2 separate regions of the Homo sapiens genome follow, and region 2 is linked to region 1. The links come from fine-mapping of genetic effects on gene expression. Tissue or cell type: whole blood. Region 1 holds a variant in brackets; the other region holds the start of a gene. All regions are shown on one strand. Distances are from middle to middle.

What was found. PIP is the estimated chance that this variant, and not a neighbour inherited with it, causes the effect.
Region 2: POLD2 starts here. The variant in region 1 is fine-mapped to the expression of POLD2 in whole blood (TOPMed, PIP above 0.99).

What each region holds. Positions count from the first base shown.
Region 1 is chr7:44,059,122-44,064,268 of GRCh38, forward strand. DBNL (drebrin like) reads left to right here. Exons shown (of 13, transcript NM_001014436.3): 10 at 233-328; 11 at 422-537; 12 at 927-1,032; 13 at 1,656-5,147. The coding sequence ends at 1,795. PGAM2 (phosphoglycerate mutase 2) reads right to left here. Exons shown (of 3, transcript NM_000290.4): 3 at 3,606-3,809. The coding sequence ends at 3,643. Among named protein-coding and RNA genes, the nearest start is that of PGAM2, 3.9 kb to the right of the region's middle. RefSeq lists enhancers at 250-409, 353-928, 929-1,505, 5,029-5,138. The variant G/A (reference allele first, on the strand shown) is at 3,219.
Region 2 is chr7:44,120,898-44,126,044 of GRCh38, forward strand. It overlaps POLD2 (DNA polymerase delta 2, accessory subunit), which reads right to left and starts at 2,651. Exons shown (of 11, transcript NM_006230.4): 1 at 2,614-2,651; 2 at 937-1,212. The coding sequence starts at 1,156. It also overlaps the pseudogene RNA5SP230. RefSeq lists a silencer at 2,337-3,046 and enhancers at 2,833-3,737, 3,257-3,316.

The DNA.
Region 1 (5,147 bases):
CATTGACCTCATCAGTGACCACACTGGTCACCAGTTTGGCCTCCAAAAGATATTGGGCTGCGCTGTCTACCACGTCACCACATAGCACATGGCCCTGGGGCCTCTGTTCCTGCACTAGCAAGAGCAAGCCCCATGAGACTGCCTCGAGCACACCAGGGTGGAGGGTGCTGTGGGGTGCGTGGGTGTGTGGTGGTGTTTCTGAAGTGATGTATATATTTACCCGGGTTTGCAGGCAAGCTGAGGAGCCCCTTCCTGCAGAAGCAGCTCACCCAACCAGAGACCCACTTTGGCAGAGAGCCAGCTGCTGCCATCTCAAGGCCCAGGGCAGGCAAGGCGCTTGTCACCCCATGGGGACCCTGGGGGACAGCAGTGGAGAAGGGGGATGTGTGGGAGTGAGAACCTGCTGTGTTCCCTGGTGCAGATCTCCCTGCTGAGGAGCCGGCGCCCAGCACTCCTCCATGTCTGGTGCAGGCAGAAGAGGAGGCTGTGTATGAGGAACCTCCAGAGCAGGAGACCTTCTACGAGCAGCCCCCACTGGTGGGTTCCTACACTGGGGCTGGGGCCAGGAAGGGGCTGCATACTCAGGAACACTTATCACGGGCCGCCTGAGTTTTCTGGGGGCATGCAACAGGTTTTAAAGCACATGCATTTTTGGAGCAGCCCTGTGTTATAAATTGTCAGGGCACGCCCCACTCTATAGGAGGTGCTGGGTGGGAAGAGGACCTTGCAGCCTATGGCTGAGGGATTTATGCACTGTCCTGTGGCTTCTGTACTCTGGTAGGGCGGGGACAGCAGCAGCCCAGCCCCCGAGCCTGTAGACTGCTTGCCCTCTGCGTACTCCCAGCTTGACCTGAGCCATGTGGGGCAGAGCAGCGATTGTGTGTAAGGGCTGAGTCTGGGGTAACACCTTTGTCATCCCTGGGCAGGTGCAGCAGCAAGGTGCTGGCTCTGAGCACATTGACCACCACATTCAGGGCCAGGGGCTCAGTGGGCAAGGGCTCTGTGCCCGTGCCCTGTACGACTACCAGGCAGGTAAGGTGCCCTGGCCTGGCTGGCACAGACCACAGGGTCCTGAGGTTAGGAGACAAGAGGGTCTGGGGTTTTATGGGAAGATGGCACCAGGGGGTATCAGGAAGAGAAGACAGGAGGGTGGGCGGTGCGTTTAGGGGTAGAAGCACCTCTGGAGTGGGGGTGACTGTGGCACTAGAGTGTTCTGCACAGCCCAGGCCTCCCTACATGTTCCTCATTAGCTATTTGCTGGCCGCTGATGTGAATCCCAGTTGCCACCCTTGTCACAGAACATGGACTCTGAGCAGGGAGGTGGGCCAGGCCTGGATGCTGGTTCACCAGGCGTCCCTGGGTGGAGGCCTTGGAGAATGGGGTGGAGGCCCCCTACGGAGCAGGCTGGTGTCTACTCTAGCCTTTTTTGGGAATGCTCTGTAGGAGGGTATGCCCTGGGGGTGTGGTCACTGGAGCCGCATTGGGACAGGGTGCAGTGTTGGCCAAGGCTTAGCAGGGTGGCAGGGATATTTCTGAGGAGGAACCAGAGCTGCAGCGAGGTGTGCTGCAGCAGTGTGGGGCTGCCGTGGGCTGCCCGAGCAGGTGGGATGTGGGAGGGAGCCCCTGATATGCATCTGGGCTCATCCTCTTTGCAGCCGACGACACAGAGATCTCCTTTGACCCCGAGAACCTCATCACGGGCATCGAGGTGATCGACGAAGGCTGGTGGCGTGGCTATGGGCCGGATGGCCATTTTGGCATGTTCCCTGCCAACTACGTGGAGCTCATTGAGTGAGGCTGAGGGCACATCTTGCCCTTCCCCTCTCAGACATGGCTTCCTTATTGCTGGAAGAGGAGGCCTGGGAGTTGACATTCAGCACTCTTCCAGGAATAGGACCCCCAGTGAGGATGAGGCCTCAGGGCTCCCTCCGGCTTGGCAGACTCAGCCTGTCACCCCAAATGCAGCAATGGCCTGGTGATTCCCACACATCCTTCCTGCATCCCCCGACCCTCCCAGACAGCTTGGCTCTTGCCCCTGACAGGATACTGAGCCAAGCCCTGCCTGTGGCCAAGCCCTGAGTGGCCACTGCCAAGCTGCGGGGAAGGGTCCTGAGCAGGGGCATCTGGGAGGCTCTGGCTGCCTTCTGCATTTATTTGCCTTTTTTCTTTTTCTCTTGCTTCTAAGGGGTGGTGGCCACCACTGTTTAGAATGACCCTTGGGAACAGTGAACGTAGAGAATTGTTTTTAGCAGAGTTTGTGACCAAAGTCAGAGTGGATCATGGTGGTTTGGCAGCAGGGAATTTGTCTTGTTGGAGCCTGCTCTGTGCTCCCCACTCCATTTCTCTGTCCCTCTGCCTGGGCTATGGGAAGTGGGGATGCAGATGGCCAAGCTCCCACCCTGGGTATTCAAAAACGGCAGACACAACATGTTCCTCCACGCGGCTCACTCGATGCCTGCAGGCCCCAGTGTGTGCCTCAACTGATTCTGACTTCAGGAAAAGTAACACAGAGTGGCCTTGGCCTGTTGTCTTCCCCTATTTTCTGTCCCAGCTCATCCGTGTCTCTGAAGAACAAATATGCTTTTGGACCACGAATTCCCAGTTTGGTCTACACAGGCTCGCAGCTCTCACCTGTCCTGCTGTAGCCTGAATGCTCCCATGTGGGAATAGCACCCCACCACCTGCCCAGTGTCTGCCTCTGCTCCGTGTCTGGGGTGAGCACCCTCACCCTGAGACTGTGGCTGATGATGATCAGCCACCAGGAAGAGGCTAAATGTTAAGATGGGACTGAAGTTGGAGCCTTCCTGCGTTCCAGTTCCTCTAGGAGAGGCCAAGGGCTGCCCTGCTCCCAGCTTCAGGGAGCCTCTGCCTACATGGGATGGCCCACTGTGTGGCGTCAGGTACCTGGCACCCACTGAGCATCCGGGGAATTAGGTCCCTCCTGTGCCCCAGAGCTGCTAGGCAGACTGCTAGGCGGTTGACTCAAGGTGTTACCTGCTAGTGCCTGGGGTGAAGGCTGCATGGAGCCCAACCTTGCTCCTGGCCTTCCTGTGCTCAGGCCTCTCCCCTTTTCGCCAGGGCTTCCTGGTGCCTCTCCCATGAAGAGGGAACTTCCCCTCCACTCCCATGGAAGACCCAGGTTTGGGCTGTTGCCAGCTTTGAGGCCCCCTGTGGGCTTGCCTGTCCCAACCCAAGAGGCAGGGCTCAAAGTGCCACCC[G/A]GGGGTTGCAAGGACAGCAGAGGACCACCTGCCCTCTGCAGGAAGCTGTCCAGGAAGCCGTGTCCTGGGCTGTGGTCCTTGCTCCCCATGGGGAGAGCTGGGTCACTTGGCCTCTTCTAACTGGCCCCAAGCACGCCAATTCTGGAGCATGGTTACTAAGTGGCTCTGAAGCTTCAGGGTCACCACAGGCTTGTCCTGACTGCAAACTCATGGAGTGGTTGCAGCCCTGGCTCAGTGTCCTGATGACTAGGTGTGGGTACTAGGCTCCTGCCCCTGGTGACACACGTATGGAGTGGGGGAGGGTGGGTGGCTGCACCCCTGGTTCTGGAGTCCCCACAGCTGATGGCGGTGTGAGCCTGGCATGCACGGCTGCGCTGGACTCCAGGCTGTTGGGGGAGGTGCCTTTATTGCCCAAGCCCACCCCTCACTTGGCCTTGCCCTGGGCAGCCACAGCCTCCATGGCCTTCCGCACCGTTTCCTCATCACCCAGGAACTGCATGGGCTTGGTGGGCTTCAGCTCCTTGTTCAGCTCATACACAATGGGGATCCCCGTGGGCAGGTTCAGCTCCATGATCGCCTGGTCTGACATCCCTATGCCGGAAGGAATAGGTGTCCTTAGCCCCTCTGTCCCCAGCCTGTTTACACAGCAGACACTATGTGACCTTTATGGTCCACAGAGCCAGTTCCCCTGGCACCAATTCCTTCCCAGCCCTGAGAACGAGGCCACAGAAATGTTGCCAAAGGTCAAGGAGTAACTGAGTTAGACCAAGCAGCCTACAGAAATAGCCCAGTGGTGAAAAAAATGGGGACTTCAGCCCCACCCAAGTGGCTGTGATCTGTGGTGGTGCTGTCCATAGTTCCCTCAGCCCAGTGTGACTCCAGCCAGACTGAAGTTGAGGGTCAGGAAGGGACACTCACCCTTTGTTTTTTTTTTTTCTTTTCTTTTTCTTTTTCTTTTTTTTGAGATGGAGTTTTACTCCTCTTGCCCAGGCTGGAGTGCAGTGGCACGATCTTGGCTCACTGCAACCTCCATCTCCTGGGTTGAAGTGATTCTGCCTCAGCCTCCCAAGTAGCTGGGATTACAGGTGAGCGCCACCACACCCGGCTAATTTTGTATTTTTAGTAGAAACGGGTTTTACCATGTTGGTCAGGCTGGTCTCAAACTCCTGACCTCAGGTGATCTGCCTGCCTCAGCCTCCCAAAGTGCTGGGATTACAGGAGTGAGCCACCGTGCCCAGCACCCTTTGGTTTCTAAAGTGCTCTAAATTCTAGACATCCTGAACAGAGGAGCAAGTGCGGAATGGAGCTGGAGGAGGGACAGGGAGGCCGAGCCTGGTCGAAACCTGACCCTGCCTGCCTCCTGCAGCCCCTGAGCTGGGAATAGCAGCTCGACCTTTGATGTTCGCGCCACTCCACCCCTGCTCCGTGCAGGAGGGTTTAAGAAAATGTTCTCTGGGGAGTCAGAGTGAAATCCCTCATATTCACCACCAAAAGTGCGTCCCCTTTCCCCAAACCAGGCTGTGGGAGGGTCATGGGGCTGCATGAAGTCTCCGGAAGGGAGAGGAGGCAGGTGGTCCTTCCCTCTGCCTGGCCCCAGTGCCAGGTGCCAGGTGTCCGTGTTTGGAGCGGGCAGGCTTGGGGCTGGCTGGGTCTCCGGGGCCTGCCGGTCTGGGTGCTCTGGCCAACTGCCCAACGGCCCTAGGAGCAGGAGGTCTGGGGCACACCCTTCTAGCCTTTCCAGGACTCAACAAGCTTTAAGGTCATTCAGATGCTAATTTAGACTGCCCTTGTGTCAGAATACTAAGGTGGGAGGCGGAGCGGAGGTGCCAGTCACTCTGGGCGAGGCCTTACTGCGCCCATGCATCCCGGGCCCATTTGTCAGCCCTTGCTCTTCAGTGGGAGCCCAGCTGCAAGCCCAGAGTCTGGCCA
Region 2 (5,147 bases), 62 kb after region 1:
TCCCTAATGAATTTGAGGTTCTAGCTAGATTTCTAGGCCCAGGGTTCTCCTGCCTGCCTATAACGAGAATTGATCTTGGCTTGGCATGGGATGAGATGGGCTTCTCAAAGCTCCCCAGGGGATTCCAATGTGCAACTAGGGCTGAGATCCATTTTGCCTGGTGCCAAGGACAGTAAAAATGAGTAAGACCTGGTCTCACCTACTAAATCCTCAGTTTAAAAATATAATAGGAGATGGATTTGAAAATTACCTGGAAAGCCACTCTTATGTAAGTGGTAGGAATGGGGGAATGCAGCAGCACCTAAAACTCAAATAAACTCAAAGGGGGAGATGGGGGTCCCTGCTTCACCACCAAGAGTAATCCAACTGCAGGAGAGATCACCAGGGAAGAAATGGGGGCAAAGAACAAGGGTTGTGTTGGGCAGGCCACTTTATTAGGAAAGACAGAGGGCCCAAGGGACAGGAAAATTCATGGCCAGCAAATATGGGGGCCAGGAGGAGAGGCAAACAGACATGAGTGAACAGAGGGGGTCCCCTCGAGACCAGAGAGTGCATCCTCACCAGTCTTGGCTCCTGGTGCCTGGCGCCAGGCTTGCCACACTGAGGGGCTCTCTGGCTACAGCACAGGCAAATACCTGAATAATCTGCACTGAAGATAGGAAAACCATTTTCCTCTGCCAGTGAAGTAATCGCCATCACCGCCAGAACTAAGTCCTCATCTCCAACCAGCCTCTGAACTAAAACTAACTCCAAACCCACAAATTACTTAATTTAATCCTTGTTACTATCTTAAGAAGAAACTGAGGGAAAAAGAGGTTAATTTTCCCAAGGTAACAGGAAGTGGGATCAATTAGATAAACTGTTCCCATTCTCTTGCAGAACACTTCTAAGTTCAGGGATGCTGTGGGGGAAGCACCTTCCCAAACTCTCACTTACCCCAGTGCTGCTGGGCCCGGTTCTCCAGGAAGGGTCTCATTTGGATGAGGCGGGTGGCATAAATGTGGGCATACTGCCGGCTAAAGCTGCGCTCTCCTAGCCGGAAGGGTTGTGAGGAGTTGGTGTAGGTTGCCACTGGCACCCGGGCAAAGGTGGCATTGTTGGCTGATGGTGGGGACAGTAGAGTGTGGGCCCTCTGGGCAGCCTGCTCAGAAAACATGGCCACACTCCTGACTTGCTTGGTCCACACAGCTTCGCCCAGGCCAAGGAGGTTCACTGCGAAAACACAAAGGCATTCCTGCTGCCCCTGTCCATCCCCCAAAGCAGCAGCTCTCCTGGTGTCTCACTGCACCCAAAGGATACTGGGAAAAGAAGGAGAACAGCTGTAGTTGACACCAGACATTGTGTCCACTTGGAAATTTATCGTGCCTGGATACCGATGTCTCACCCTGTAGCGGTCATCCAAAAAGAGAAAAGGAAAGCTAGGAGTGTTTGTCCCATCTGGAGTTCTTCCCGAACCCTAGACTCAGGTGTCCTGTTCCATCTGGACAACTACCAGGGTCTCAATCAAGTTCAGTTTGCCCCAAATGGAATTCCCGATCTGCCTCCATCCAGCTCTCCGGCACCTGTCTCATTTCCAGACAAGAGGTCTGCCTTATTAAATAAAACTTCTGTGAAATAATAAGCCTATTATTAAATAATAATAGAACTAAACCAAAACCAAAACATAAATCAGTCACTGCTCTGTTCAAAACTCTCCAAAGTGTCCTCATTTCATTGAATAAGGCCCCAAGTCCTTACAACTGCCTATGAGATCTGCTCCACTGGTCCTCTCCCCTCCTGGTTCCCACTCCTCCACCTTGGATCCCTCCCCACAGCAAGGGGCCTCTGAACTCTTGCTTGCCCCTCTCCCGTATACTTATAGAGCTCACTTGCCCATCTCCTTCAAGTTCTTACATCTTTACTCAAATGTTACCTTGTGCCCTGCCCATCTGATTTACAACTGCAACTCTCCCCAGTACTTCAACTGTTATTGTTGTTTACAACATTTACCTTCTAACAAACTGTATATTTTAAATGTATTGTCTGCCTGCTCCAACTAGACCATAAGCTCCAGGAGAGCTGAGATTTTTGTGTCTTATGCCACTAGCCACCTAGGGCTACGAAGTACAGGAGATGTGGTGAGTCCAACTGTGATGTTTGGGTTGGACACACAATGGATTTCTAAGAATAGTACAAAGAATATCCCAATAATTTTTTCACATACAATTGAAATAATAGTTTGAATATATTTATGGATTTACTCCAATTGATTTGTTTCGTTTTACTTTTTTCGTACACCTACTAGAAAGTTAAAAAATTCCCTAGCGGCTTGCAATCTATCTCCACGGGACAGCACTGGCCTGGGACACAGGCTCCGCACACGTGTCTAACGAGTGACTCGTTAGGAGCTTTTGGCTCGAACGTGCTTGATGGCGGCAGCAGCCAGGCCGCGCTACTCGGGATGGGGCCGAGAGCGCCCTGGGGGCTGTCCCAGTCACGGCGGGTGCCCCGGCTCGGATCCACGCGGCAGCTGCGGGACGTCCGCCAAGACACCAGCCCACCGACCCAGGAGCCCGGCCTCGCGGCCTGGAACTGCCACCCCCAGCTGACCCCGTTTCCCTGGACCCCACTCACCGCGCGGCGCGCCGCATCCCGCCAATCCCCGCGCGCCTGCCCCGCCCATCGCCGCAACTCGCTAATCCCCGCGCGGCTTCCCCGCCCATCGCCTAATCTCACCAATCGCTGCCCTCCTCGCCCCGTCCGTCACCAGGCGCCTCATCCCGCCGACCACTGTGCGCCCAGTCCCTGGGACGCCCAGAGAACGCGGAGCCACACCCTCGGTTTCCTGGGCAACGCGGGGCGGGGGCTCGCAGGCCGGCGCCGCGGGTCTTTGGTTGGCGGCCGCGCGTGCAGGGGTTGGGCTGACGGGGGGTGTCGGCCTCCAGTGGGCTGACCGCGTCACCCCGTCAGGCCCTGCCCAAACCTCCCAGTGGTCGTCACCCCGCCAGACCTCCCAGTGGTCGGCCGCCAGCCTCCTTGGTGAAGCCCCCAGCGTCCCAGCTTTCCCCGCAGAGCTGCCCACTTGTAGCGATGGCGACACGCGAGGAGGATCCCAACAGAAAGAAGGCCCAAGGCCCACTAACTTGGCCGGGGAGAAGTAACTCTTCCTGAAGGGATGGCGCGGGGTCTCGGGGTTCCTCCCGTCCTGCCAGCGTCTGCGTCCGGGAAACGCATTGGCGGTTTCGGGGTCCTCCCTAGCTTGCCCACAGCTGCACACCAGCTTCCAGCCCAACACTCCCCAATCTCCAGTGTCCTCGTTGTCCCCGTTACTCATACTCGTTCTTACCACCACGTCTTTCTGAGTGCTGTCTCCCACTTTGGGAATACTTTTTTTTTTTTTTTTCCATCTCCACTAATTTATAGAATTCCTCACCCCATCAAGAGACGCTTCCCCACTAAGCTTCCCGGGCTCTTCCCGCCGCGCGCTGATTCTCCCAGGCGTCCTCTAGCGCTACTGTTCTGCTACTTCCCTGGGCCTGTTTCCTAAGTCCAGGTCTTGTCTCCACAACGAGTGGATATTAACACTCGTTAATTATTACTTAATATTTTAATTTTTGTTTTTGTTTGTTTGTTTGAGGCAGCGTCTTGCTCTGTGGCCCAGGCTGGAGTGCAGTGGTGCGATCTCGGCTCACTGCAGCCTCGAACTCCCAGGCTCCAGTGATTCTCCCGCCTCAGCCTCCCGAGTAGCTGGGACAACAGGCGCGCAGCACCACGCCTGGCTACTTTAAGTTTGTGTGTGTGTGTGTGTGTGTGCGTGTGTGTGTAGAGACAGGGTCTCCCAATGGTGCCCAGGCTAGTGTGGAACTCCTGGGCTCAAGTGATCCTCCCACCTCAGCCTCCCAAAGTGCTGGGATTACAGGCATGAGCCACCACGCCCAGCCTTATATTTTAATTTAAAATGTGATATTTTAATTATTAAACGCCTTTGCAACTGCTTTGAGGTTATGACACATTAATTCATCTGCTCCTCAAATAATCCTTTGGGTCAGACACAGTGGTTCACGCCTGTATCCCAACACTTTGGGAGGCCGAGGTGGGAGGATCGCTTAAGCCCAGGAGGCTGAGGTTGCAGTGACCTAAGATTGCACCACTGCACTTCAGCCTGAGCGACAGAGCCAGACGCTGTCTCAAAGCAAGCAAACAAACAAAAAACCTTTGAAGCATGAACTATTATTTTTCTCCCACTTTACACATGAGGAAATTGAGGCAGGGAGGGCAAGAGAGATCATGTAGCTAGTGAGTAATAGCTGGGATTCACACAGAGACAGCAGGACTCTTGCTGGTAAGGTTGTACTGTTCTGAGCCTTCACCTGAAACATTGTACATGTATTGGGCAAACAAATAATTTTACTTTTTCCTTTCCAATTCAGATGCTTTTTATTTCTTTTTTCTTACCTGATTACTCTGGCTAGAACTTCCCATACTATGTTGAGTAGAAGTGGTGAAAGTGGGCATCTTTGTCTTATTCCGGATCTTAAAGGGGAAGCTTTCAGTCTTTAGCATTAAATATGTTGCTAGCTGTGAGTTTGGGGATTTGGCCTATGGATTTTATTATTTGAGGTAGTTTCCTCCTATTCTTAGTTTGTTGAGCTTTTTCTTCTTTCAAAAGAGTGTTGAATTTTGTCAAATACTTTTTTGACATCAATTGAGATGACCGTGTGGGTTTTTTTTCTGTTAATGTGGTCTATTACATTTATTGATTTTTATGTTGAACCATTCTAGCATTTCAGGAACAAATTCCACTTGGTGGAATTACAAACCAAAGTTACAATAATACTAGCTTTTAATGTATTCTCTTTTATATAATTAATTTTACTTTAATTGCACCTGAATTTTCCTTTAGCATAGACCGTTATTTCTCCCCTCCAAGTACTAACCAGGCCCAACTCTGCTTAGCTTCTGAGATTGGACACATTCAGGGTGGTACGGCCATAGATGAGATCTTTATTCGTTTATTCGGCTTTTTTTTTTGAGACAGGGTATCACTCTGTCACCCAGGCTGGAGTGCGGTGGCACAATCTCGGCTCACTGCAACCTCCGCCTCCTGGGTTCAGGTGATTCTCTTGCCTCAGCCTCCCAAGTAGCTGGGATTACAGGCATGTGCCACC